Linked DNA regions of Homo sapiens. The protein of the gene in region 2 interacts with the protein of the main gene of each other region in a biochemical or structural test. Each region holds a gene or a part of one and is shown on either strand. Other genes may lie near its edges. The genes, in order: RPS6KA3, FGFR1 and NOSTRIN.

Region 1 (3,652 bases), on a different chromosome or scaffold from region 2:
TGAGGTGATTTTTTTAATACCTCTCCGCTGAGCAAGAGTAGAGCGGCCTACTGGTTCCAAAACTGGTGACTGATTACGGTTCAAAGCAGAATATGTAGCTGCCATGGCACCCTGAACAAAGGAAATAAAGGTAGTAACAAAAGTGACAATGGATAGTCACACGTACACAAATACAAAATGAAGAGTTTTTTCATATGCAAATGTACATAGATTTTATTTGGTTCATAATGAAAATAACCACACTGGTCAAATCCACTGACTTAACCAAAACTGTAGAGGCCAACATGGAGGTTAAAATTATGTATGAGAGAGAACAAAGATAGGCTCATAACAGGCAGTCCTCACTTTTCTCAGGACTATTCAACATTTTTTCCCTTTGCATTCCTTTAATGCATAAAGGCACTAAAGAGACAGGAAGGCATGCTCTTTAAGTTGGGAAATCCATAAGCTTAATCTGTCCTTATTGATAGTGAATACCTACTCATGTAGACTGAGAGGAATTCAAAAGTCGCTCTTAAACTAGTTTTATTACTAATATATTGATATGCCTTGAGCTTTTCGAAGTCACCCACTGTAAGAGAATCCCACAACAGAACTGGATGCAGGATGAAAGAGAAAGGTGCTGGGGGCATGGACAGGGCTTCTTGAAGTCTCTCCTGGAGGACCTGTGGAAAACAGTGACTGTATGGGGCTGCTCACCTTTACTAGATGTGGTGCATCCTGTCTGTTTAGTTGGTATTGTGGCAGTTGGTCCCAGTGGACGATCCAAGGATGTCTGAGCACAAGAGCAGCAGTCAGTCTCTGATGAGGGTCTACATGAAGCATCTTTGACACCAGGTCCTGTAATGGGAATAATAAAACAAGCTTAAACCTTTTGTTTTGCTTCTTTTTCTATGGCTCTTGATACTAATGAACATTCTTCCTTAGCTTCTGTGATACTGCTTTTTCTGGTAGCAGCCCTTTGGTCAACATGGTAATTTGGGGGAAAAAAAATCAGTCTCCGCTTTTTCCCTGCTAAATAACTGTAATTTGGTGCATCACAAGGGGTCAATTTAGCACATTTTATATATCTTTAAGTACTCTGGCTCTTTTTTCCTTCAGATTTTCTGAGTTTCCTACATTTTTGTAGGTTTATTTATTTATTGAAACAGGGTCTCATTCTGTCGCCCAGGCTGGAGTGCAGTGGCATGATCTTGGCTCACTGCAACCTCTGTCTCCTGGCCTCAAGTGATCCTCCCACCTCAGCCTCCCAAAGAGCTGGGACTACAGGTGTGCGCCACCATGCCTGGCTAACTTTTATGTTTTTAGTAGAGATGGGGTTTCATCATGTTGCCCAGGCTGGTCTCCACCTCCTGGATGCAAGTGTTACTCCCGCTTCAGCCTCTCAAGGTGCTAGGATTACAGATGTGAACCACTGTGCTTGGCCAGTTTATTTTTAAGTAATATTCAGTTACTTAAGACTTTTTTTGTGCTGCTGGTAATACTGAAAAAAAAAAACATGAATGTCCAATAACAGGAATTTAATTGGAGGGCTCTAAATGCCCCCTGAAAAGACTATAGTATTTTTTTTCCTACTTCAAAAGCAACCCATGGGCATTAGAGAATAATCAGAAAATACTGGAATGTGAAAGCACATGAGGAACAGTTCCATAATCCCACTCTTCCAGAGACAGTCACTGTTAGCACTGCATATCTATCTAAATGCCATTCCTATGCATGCAATGTAGATGCATATAATCACTACATGGTTTTACACTCTTCAAAATAACACCACTGTCATTTATAAAAGCCACCATTTTTTAAATTTTTCATTCAAAATACATTTGTTAAGTATCCAGTAAAGGCCAGGCATTCTGCTAGGCACTGGGTAGTTAGCAATGAACAACACAGAAATGAAGTCTAGGCAACATTGTGAGGTCCTGTATCTACAATTTTTTTTTTTTTTAAAGCTGAGTGTGGTGGCATATGCCTGAGGTCCCAGCTATTTGGGAGGCTGAGGCAGAGATCATTTGAGCCCAGGAAGTCAAGGCTGCAGTGAGCCGTGATTGAACCACTGTACTCTAGTCTGGGCAACAGAGCGAGACCCTGTCTCAAAAAAAAAAAAAAAAAAGACAAAATGAACTCTGACTTCATGAAGTTTTCAGTTCAGTGAAGGAGAGATAAAGAATCAATAATCACAAAGCAAGTAAGTTCTTTGACAGGATGAACAAACACCAGGTGCAGCTGGAGGGACACAGAGATACCTGACTGTACTGTGTGAGGTGGCTTAAAAGGGACTTTTTAAGAGGAAGATAAGACCTGTAGGATAAGCAGGAGCTAGATTAGAGAAAGGAAGGGGGAAACACTGCCTCAGGTAGAGTAGAGAGAATGGAGAGTGAGTTTGGAGGAACGCTCTTAGGTGGGAGAGAAGACGACACAGTTAAGGAACTGGCAGCAGTACAATGCGGCTACAGCATAAATTTACCGTGAAGGAGAATGTGGCAGTGGATAAAGTGGGAGAGATGAGAAGGGACCAGATCAGGAAAGTCCCTGTAAGCCATATTTGCAAACGTGGACTTATTTGATGGTAATAAAGTGTTTAAAGTTAGGGAGTGATGCGGTTAAGTAAAAAGATCACATTCACTGAGTGTGGAGGAAAATGGACTGGTGAAAGATGACAGCTTCAGGGAGGTGTATGTAATGGAGAAAATTGGGCTGGGCGTGGGAGAAATTTGGGAGGCCAAAGTGGGAGGCTCACTTGACCCCAGGAGTTCGAGACCAGCCTGGGCAACGTAGTGGGACTCCATCTCTACAAAAAATTTAAAAATTAGCTGGGAGTGGTGGTGCATGCCTGTAGTCCCGGCTGTTCAGGAGGCTGAGGTGGGAGGATAGCTAGAGTCCAGAAGTTGGAGGTTGCAGTGAGCTGTGATTGTACCACTGCAACTCTAGCCTGGGCAACACACTAAGACTCTATCTCAAAAAAAAAAAAAAAAAAAAAAAGAGAGAGAGAGAGAGAGAAATGGAGGTATTTAGGATAAAGAACTGACAGAATCTGGTGGTTAACTAGATCTTGGGAATTAGCGTGATGTTGTTCCAGGTACTCCTCTGCTATGAGACATTTATGGTTTCTTACTTTTAGTTATTAACAGCTAAGAACAGGGATACGCAATTGAACAGAGCTGGAAATAAAAATAAAAAAAATTAGGAACCTCCCTTTTGCAATTCTGAAAGTAGGCAAAAGTGCTTAAAATTGCATAAAAGGTTGCAAAACTGTCCAGGGGTACAACAAAACTCAATTATAATTTTAATCAAATCTATACGTTAATGAGCTTTTGGTGAACTCACTTCAAACTACTTCTCTTACTACAGCCCCTTTAATGGCTACTCCTCCCCTAAGCTTTCTCTTTAAGTGGTGCTCTCCAGAATTCTTTCCTTGGCTCTCTTACACTCTGCTCAGATAATCTCATTCAAATTCATGGCTTTAGCTACTATGGATGATGACAACTCTTAAGTGTCACCCCAGACTTCTCTTTTAAGACCTATAACCATATAGACAGTTGCCTGATGGACATACATCTCTTAATTTATAATGTCCAAATCTGCAACCACCACTCCTCTCAAAACTACTTCTTTTGTATTCTACAAATCAGTGAAGGATACCACCCCTCATCCA
Region 2 (3,652 bases):
TGCACACTTGAAATGTGGCTGGTGCTAACGGATATGCTATAAGTAAAAAGTATACACCGCATCTTAAAAACTTGTTATGAAAAAAATGTAAAGTATCTCATCAATAATTTCTATATTGATTACATGTTCAAATGATAATATTTTGGAAATATAGTTACATTAAATAAAATCTAAACAAACAAGTTAATTAAAAAACAAATATTGGCCAGGCGCGGTGGCTCACGCCTGTAATCCCAGCACTTTGGGAGGCTGAGGTGGGCAAATCACGAGGTCAAGAGGTCGACACCATCCTGGCCAACATGGTGAAACCCCGTCTCTACTAAAAGTACAAAAATTAGCTGCGTGCAGTGGCGCGCGCCTGTAGTCCCAGCTACTCAGGAGGCTGAGGCAGGAGAATTGCTTGAACCCGGGAGGCAGAGGTTGCAGTGAGCCGAGATTGCGCCACTGCACTCCAGCCTGGCAACAAAGTGAGACTCCGTCTCAAAAAAAAAAATTTTTTTTACCTATTTCTTTCTTTTAACTTAATTTCCAATGTGGCTTCTAGAAAATCTGAACATATACATAACTCATGTTATAATGTTATATTTCTTTCTTCCTTTCTTTTTTTCTTTGAGATGGAGTCTTGCTCTGTCACTCAGGCTGGAGTTGCAGTGGCGCAATCTTGGCTCAACCACCGCCTCCCGGGTTCAAACGATTCTCCTGCCTCCCAAGTAGCTGGGATTACAGACATGAGCCACCAAGCCCGGCTAATTTTTTTATTTTTAGTAGAAATAGGGTTTCACCATGTTGGCCAGGCTGGTCTTGAACTCCTGACCTCAGGTGATCCACCTGCCTTGGCCTCCCAAAGGGCTGGGATTACAGGCATGAGCCACTGTGCCTGGCTTTTTTTTTTTTTTTTTTTTTAAACAGGGTCTTCCTCTGTCCCCCAGGCTGGAATGCAGTGGTGCAATCACAGCTTATTGCAGCCTCTGCCTCCTAGGCTCAAGTGATCCTCCCACCTCAGCCTCCTGAATAGCCGGGACTACCAGTAAGCACGAGCATACTCATCTAATTTGTGTATTTTTTGGTAGACACAGGGTCTCACCATGTTGTCCAGGCTCATCTCCATCTCATGGGCTCAAGCAATCCGCCTGCCTTGGCCTCCCAAAGTGCTGGGATTACAGGCATGAGCCACTGTGACCAGCTGCTCATGTTCTATTTCTATAGGGCGCCACAGCTCGAAGCAACATCCATGCCTCTGTGCAAGACTTTCTTCATGCCATTCCTTGTTCTGCAACAGGCCAGCCCTTCCCTTTTCTCTGAACCCCACCTTAAGAAGCTGTTTCTTCCATAAGACTTTCTTGGGCCTTCTAGCTGGAGAATTTCATTCCTCCAAATTTGCAAACCACATTACTAGCCCCTCTCACATAGCACTTAGGTCATATTATATGATTGTTATTTATGTTCTTCATTCTCTTCTCTCCCCACGAAACTGCAGGCTCCTTCAGAACAGGGTCTGTGCCTCCCTAACCTTTGCTAACACCCTCGGCACCTAGCATGTACACAGGAGATGCCAACATGTTTGTTAACTGGATGAATGAGTAAGTGAATGAAGGAAAAAAAAGGGCTGATGAAAAGAAACTGACAGAGATACTCCTCCAGAAAAAGAGGCTGAGAATATCAGAGAAAAGCAATTAGGTAGTACCCCTTGTTAACCAGCCAAACTCTAGTCCAAAGAACCCTGAGAAAATTTCTGGACAACTTGGTTCTTCAGAATTGAGGAAGTAACACCAAAACATTAATCCCTTCAGATGAGAATAAGACTTATTTCTTCCCCAAAGTGACCATTCTCTACTCACATGTTGAGAGGGCAGGGGGCAAGTACTTAATAAACATATGGAGAAAGTTACTCAGCTCAGCTTGCTAAATTTTAGTTGGTCCAATGGAAATGCTAATTTTTTGAGTCTCTTTAAAAAAAAAAAGTGTCTAAATGTCCTTGGAAGTAAGAGACATATAAAAAATTAGCAATAAGTGGTCAGGCACAATGGCTCACACCTGTAATCCCAGCATTTTGGGAGGCCGAGGCCAGCGGATTGCTTGAGGTCAGGAGTTCAAGCCCAGCCTGGCCAACATGGTGAAACACCATCTCTATTAAAAACACAAAAAATTAGCCGGACATGGTGGCGCATGCTTGCAATCCCAGCTACTAGGGAGGCTGGGGCAGGAGAATCGCTTCAACCGGAAGGCGGAGGTTGCAGTGACCTGAGATAGCGCCACAGCACTCCAGCCTGGGCGACAGAGCGAGACTATCTCAAAAAAAAAAAAAAAAAAAAAAAGCAACAAGTGAAACACGAACTGCTGCACATAATCTAGAAAACCTTGCTCTTGAAGACAGGATGTACTATGAGTGGAACCCCACCAAATTCTTGGGATAGTTCATCCATGTGAGGGCTATTAAATGGGGGAGAGGGCCCTAAACATGGTTTCTTTCATTGCAGGGGAGAGATAAATGGTGGCGAGGAGAGAATTTCTGTTTAAAGTAGATGCAACCTTAGGAGGAAAAACAAATATCCTAGCCCAAGTCTGACATTTCATCCTCTCTGGAAACACCAGAATCTTCTCTAAAGCTCTGCATCTGGGCTCCCACTAGTCCCTGGTGCGTTCAGGCCTTTTACAAAGCTCTGGGGAAGACAAATGTAAGACACAAATTTCCCAGGAGGAAATTAAACTATCAAGTGATGTGAGGCCCTTTCAGAATAAGACATTTGAATCAATTCTAACTCCTTTTCCTCCAGCAGCAACAGGCTCAAACTTTGCTAGGATGTTCTATAACTAACAGCCATTTTGACGAAAGACACTTTAGAAACGAAGGCAAGAAAAAAGCCTTTGTAGAAGCCGGCTGCTAAACCCCCAAGTTCATACCAGCAAATCTCTCATTTTAGGAGTCTTGTTTCAGGTCAATACTGAAAACAAAGAGCACACCACTAAAAGCAAAACCCATGGATTTTCCTTGGTCTCTAAGGCTTGAATCTGCCTACCCAGTGTTCAATTCAATTTTCTTGCCCTCTGGAGTCCACCAGGAATAAAGCTAGCCCAGCCTGAGGGATGCACCGATGTATCTAATCCTCTGCCCCTAGGGAGTGGGGGACGCTTCTCCATTTCTTCCTGAGCCTTTGCTTCCCTTGCTATCAAAGGGCCACCTAATGGAACTGTCTAACACCCTCCATGGCCAGAGGCCAAGGAAAAGAAGCACCCTAAGATTGTTCAAGTGGTGCCCACTCTGGCCTGAATTCCCATTGGGAAAAATACCTCGAAAATGAGCATTTCTGCAGGCATGTTTGGAAAAGCAGGCAGTGAAGTACGCAGTCCAAGTGGCTCTCAATCTGGATGAACCTCATTAAAAAGCTGACACTCAGCTATGACTAAGAGTAAATGCAACAGATATTTCAAGCAGCTCGTCACTGATGCAGTTCATAACCCTCCCAGCTGGAGTCAGGCCCCAGCAGCCTCCCGGTCCCCAAACACCCTGCACTCGGAGGGTCGGGGCAGCCCCGGAGCTTCTCCTAACCCACTGGGGGTAGGATATGTAAACAAGTCATTAGGGAGGCAGGCCATCGGCAAAGACGGCCGGCAATAGCAGAGGCTGCTGAACCTCGGTCACCGAGAGGAAGGT
Region 3 (3,652 bases), on a different chromosome or scaffold from region 2:
GTGGTCAGGGTTTGGCCAAAAAGAGAAATATGTTGGCTGTACTGGTTTAAGTTATTGCATAAAAGTTGAATTCTTTCCTTCTCCAGCTCCAGAATGCTCTGAAAAGAATGAAAATTGGGGTAAGATCAGCCAGTTGTTATGCAAAATGGAAGTCACTCATCAAACACTGACACACCTGAAGACAGACTGAACAAAGTCTCATGATTAGCCTCTTGACTATGTCATATCCAAACCATAGTGGAGGGAGATTTCCAGGAAGGAATGTGTCTTGGTATCTTAAATCACTCACACACTTTCCCCAGGCTCTTTTGACCCAAAAGGCATATAGGCAGATGCTGTGGGTTACCTAAGTTTATGAGGAAGGGGGAGAAAAGAAGAAAAGGAAGCATTTGAGACACAATCATGGATTCCAGAGAATTCCAGAGAATTTCAGTAGAGATGGGGTTTCACCATGTTGGGCAGGCTGGCCTTGAACTCCTGACCTCAGATGGTCCACCTGTCTTGGCCTCCCAAAGTGCTAGGATTACAGGCATGAGCCACCGCGCCTAGCCAGGCCTTGTTTTTACAAAAAAAAAAAAAAAAAAATTGGGAAGAATTCCAGAGGGTGAAGCCCAGGAAAGCCCATATCCATGTCTTGGAAATGCATTGAGACACCCAATAGTTTTAGAATTGTTTATAGTACATTCAAGGCGTTCTGCTAGTCTGCAGGGAAGAGAATGACAGGCCACAAATTCTCTGTTTAAGGAGGTTATTTGACAAGAGAAGAATCCCAAAGTCTGACCAATTTATAATTCTGCCTAAAATTAGGCCTGGGAGTCAGAGTCCGCTGTTTGCAGGTAGACACATAGCCTCTTTATTTTGTGTGAGATGACAGAAGTTTCATTATTAGACTTATGACTTTTAGGTAGGAAGGGTAAATAAGAAAGTGAGGGGAATCACATTTGCTTTGTTAGCTATTAACATTTTAGAGGCCGGGCACAGTGGCTCATGCCTATAATCCCAGCACGTTGGGAGGCCAGGGTGGGAGGATCACCTGAGGTCAGGAGTTTGAGACCAGCCCAGCCAACATGGTGAAACCTTATCTCTACTAAAAATACAAAAATTAGCCAGGCATGGTGGCACACGCCTGTAATCCCAGCTACTCAGGAGGTTGAGGCAGAATTGCCTGAACCCAGGAGGTGAAGTTTGCAGTGAGCCGAGATCATGCTACTGCACTCCAGCCTGGGTGACAAAAGTGAAACTGTCTCAAAAAAAAAAAAAAAATGAGAAAATGTTACTTATTGGACCCATGCCAACTGAGTTGCTGACTGGTGGTTTTACAGGGGGCAGAAAGCTTTAGCAACTAAGCATTCTTAGAGAAGGCTGGCTCAGGCAGAGTATTCAGGGAGACTCCAAGGCCATGTGGGGGCAGTGTAAGGCTGCTGGGTATGTGCCCAGGGGACTTTGGGCTTTGATGGAGATGGCAGGTGTCCAAGACAAAATTCTTCCCATCTTTTTTTTTTTTTTTTTTTGTAAAAACAAGGCCTGGCTAGGTGCGGTGGCTCATGCCTATAATCCCAGCATTTTGGGAGGCCGAGACGGGTGAACTACCTGAGGTCAGGAGTTCAAGGCCAGCCTGCCCAACGTGGCAAAACCCCGTCTCTACTAAAAATACAAAAATTAGCCAGGCCTGGTGGCGGGCGCCTGTCGTCCCAGCTACTCAGGAGGCTGAGGCAGGAGAATCGCTTGGACCTGGGAGGTGGTGGTTGCAGTGAGCTGAGATCATGCCACTGCACTCCAGCCTGTGCAAAAGAGTGAGATTCCATCTCAAAAAAAAGAAAAGAAGAAAGAGAAAGAAAGAAAGAAAAAATACAAGGCCTGGGCATTCATCCTTTTATCCAGGGAAGTCCAGCTCAGTTGCTCTCATACCCACCATCCCAACTCCTGCATCCCACAAAGAGCACCAGCAATCATCTTTCATGAACAAGGCTTTGGAGAAGTTGGTGGGTAACACGACCATAGGGAAGAAGAAAGATGGGTATGTCTCAAGGCCCTTGGCAGTGCAAGAGAGGTGAGAATGGAGAGTCACAAAGATCACTGGGTTCTCCTTGCTCACCTCTTGAAATTCCTACAGGAGCCCATTGGCCTGATTCAGTATGGTATTCCTCTATATCCCTGTGTTGTTAATTCATCTATGGTATATGGTGATTAAAATTATTTTAAATTTCTTTATACTTTTAATTATGGTAAAATTTACATAATATGACATGCCATTTTATCCACCTTAGGCATCCATTTCAGTGTCATTAAGTGCATTCACATTATTATGCAAACACCACCATAATTCATCTCTAAAACTTTTTTCATCTTGCAAAAGTAAACCGTACCCATGAAACAACGACTTCTCATTTCCTACGCTCTGCATCCCCTGGCAACCACCATTCTACTTTCTGTCTCTACAAATTTAACTACTCTTGATACCTCTTACAAGAGGAATCATACACTACTTGTTCTTTTGCATCTGGCTATTTCACTTAGCATAATGTCTGCAAGGTTCATCCATGTTGTAGCATGTGCCAGAATTCCCTTCCTTTTTGGCTGAATAATATTCCATGGTATGCATATACCACATTTTGTTTTTTGGTATATAGTCATTTGAACACTGCTTGCAAATGAAAGTAGTAAAAGGCTCAGGCAGTAACTATGAACATCTGTGCCAATCACATGCAACTTTAGCTTTTGTATCAAGTGTCCTGACATTTGGATTGGAAGCCTGGAGCCACGCCCCCATGGCAATCTTCTTAGTTGCCTCTGAAGCTGCCCAATTTTCATATGTCAATGGGAGTCAAATGGATTGGTTTACGCTGGCAGTCCCCTGAGGCTTTCACAAAATTGCAGGCACCAGTCATTTGAATGTGGCCGTCTGCCCTTCTGTCTCCCAGATAAAGGATTAAAGACACAGAATAGCCTATCAAATGTTTTGCTTCTTAAAAGGCAGAATCGATATGCCTCATAACAAATACGTAAAACAAATTCTGCTCAGTTGTTTGGATCTCCTATGTGACAATCTTCAAAAAGAAGAAGTCCTTACCCTATAGAAAAAGATCTAGAAATCAGCTCTTCTGTTTTAGCCTATGAGCAAGAGAGAAGAGAAAATAAAAGCCAGGTTTTAGAACATATTGCATCCCTAGTGGGCAGGTGTTTCTTTACTTTGACAAGTGCTGAACCACTAGCATCAATCTGAGACTAGAATAACCAGTGTTCCTTAGTGACATGGTAATGCTTAACAGATTTTAATTACATTTCAGGGAAATCATTAAAATGATCTATGTTTGCTCATAAGAAGAGGAGGAAATAAATTCCACTGTGCAAAGGAGAGATCCATATCTAATGATTTTTTGCTTTTTATTATCTTGTTCTTTTTATATAAAATAGGTGGTAGAGAAGCAAGATACTCTGGAGGACCTCAAACTGTCCTCTTGAGGTTCCACAATAGTATATATGAACAAAGTGTGGTCAAGGAGTTATCCAGAAAGATTCAGATTTCAGCAGATTTAGAGCCTGTCTGGGGCCCAAGCATCATGACAATTTGTTCTTCATTCGTTCCTTCCAGTTCTTGCTGTCCTAGCCTTTGGGCTGGTACTACAGGAAGAAGTCAAAGGGATTTTGTTTT

What was found.
Region 1: the proteins of FGFR1 (region 2) and RPS6KA3 form a complex in vitro, tested with the Homo sapiens proteins (one study listed by BioGRID).
Region 3: the proteins of FGFR1 (region 2) and NOSTRIN form a complex in vitro, tested with the Homo sapiens proteins (one study listed by IntAct).

What each region holds. Positions count from the first base shown.
Region 1 is NC_000023.11:20,155,410-20,159,061, forward strand, and holds part of RPS6KA3 (ribosomal protein S6 kinase alpha-3), read right to left. Parts: intron 841-3,652; coding exon 700-840; intron 112-699; coding exon 1-111. UniProt on the Homo sapiens protein: Serine/threonine-protein kinase that acts downstream of ERK (MAPK1/ERK2 and MAPK3/ERK1) signaling and mediates mitogenic and stress-induced activation of the transcription factors CREB1, ETV1/ER81 and NR4A1/NUR77, regulates translation through RPS6 and EIF4B phosphorylation, and mediates cellular proliferation, survival, and differentiation by modulating mTOR signaling and repressing pro-apoptotic function of BAD and DAPK1.
Region 2 is NC_000008.11:38,462,021-38,465,672, forward strand, and holds part of FGFR1 (fibroblast growth factor receptor 1 isoform 1 precursor), read right to left. Parts: intron 1-3,652. UniProt on the Homo sapiens protein: Tyrosine-protein kinase that acts as a cell-surface receptor for fibroblast growth factors and plays an essential role in the regulation of embryonic development, cell proliferation, differentiation and migration.
Region 3 is NC_000002.12:168,847,530-168,851,181, reverse strand, and holds part of NOSTRIN (nostrin), read right to left. Parts: intron 347-3,652; coding exon of another isoform or gene 176-346; intron 99-175; coding exon 1-98. UniProt on the Homo sapiens protein: Multivalent adapter protein which may decrease NOS3 activity by inducing its translocation away from the plasma membrane.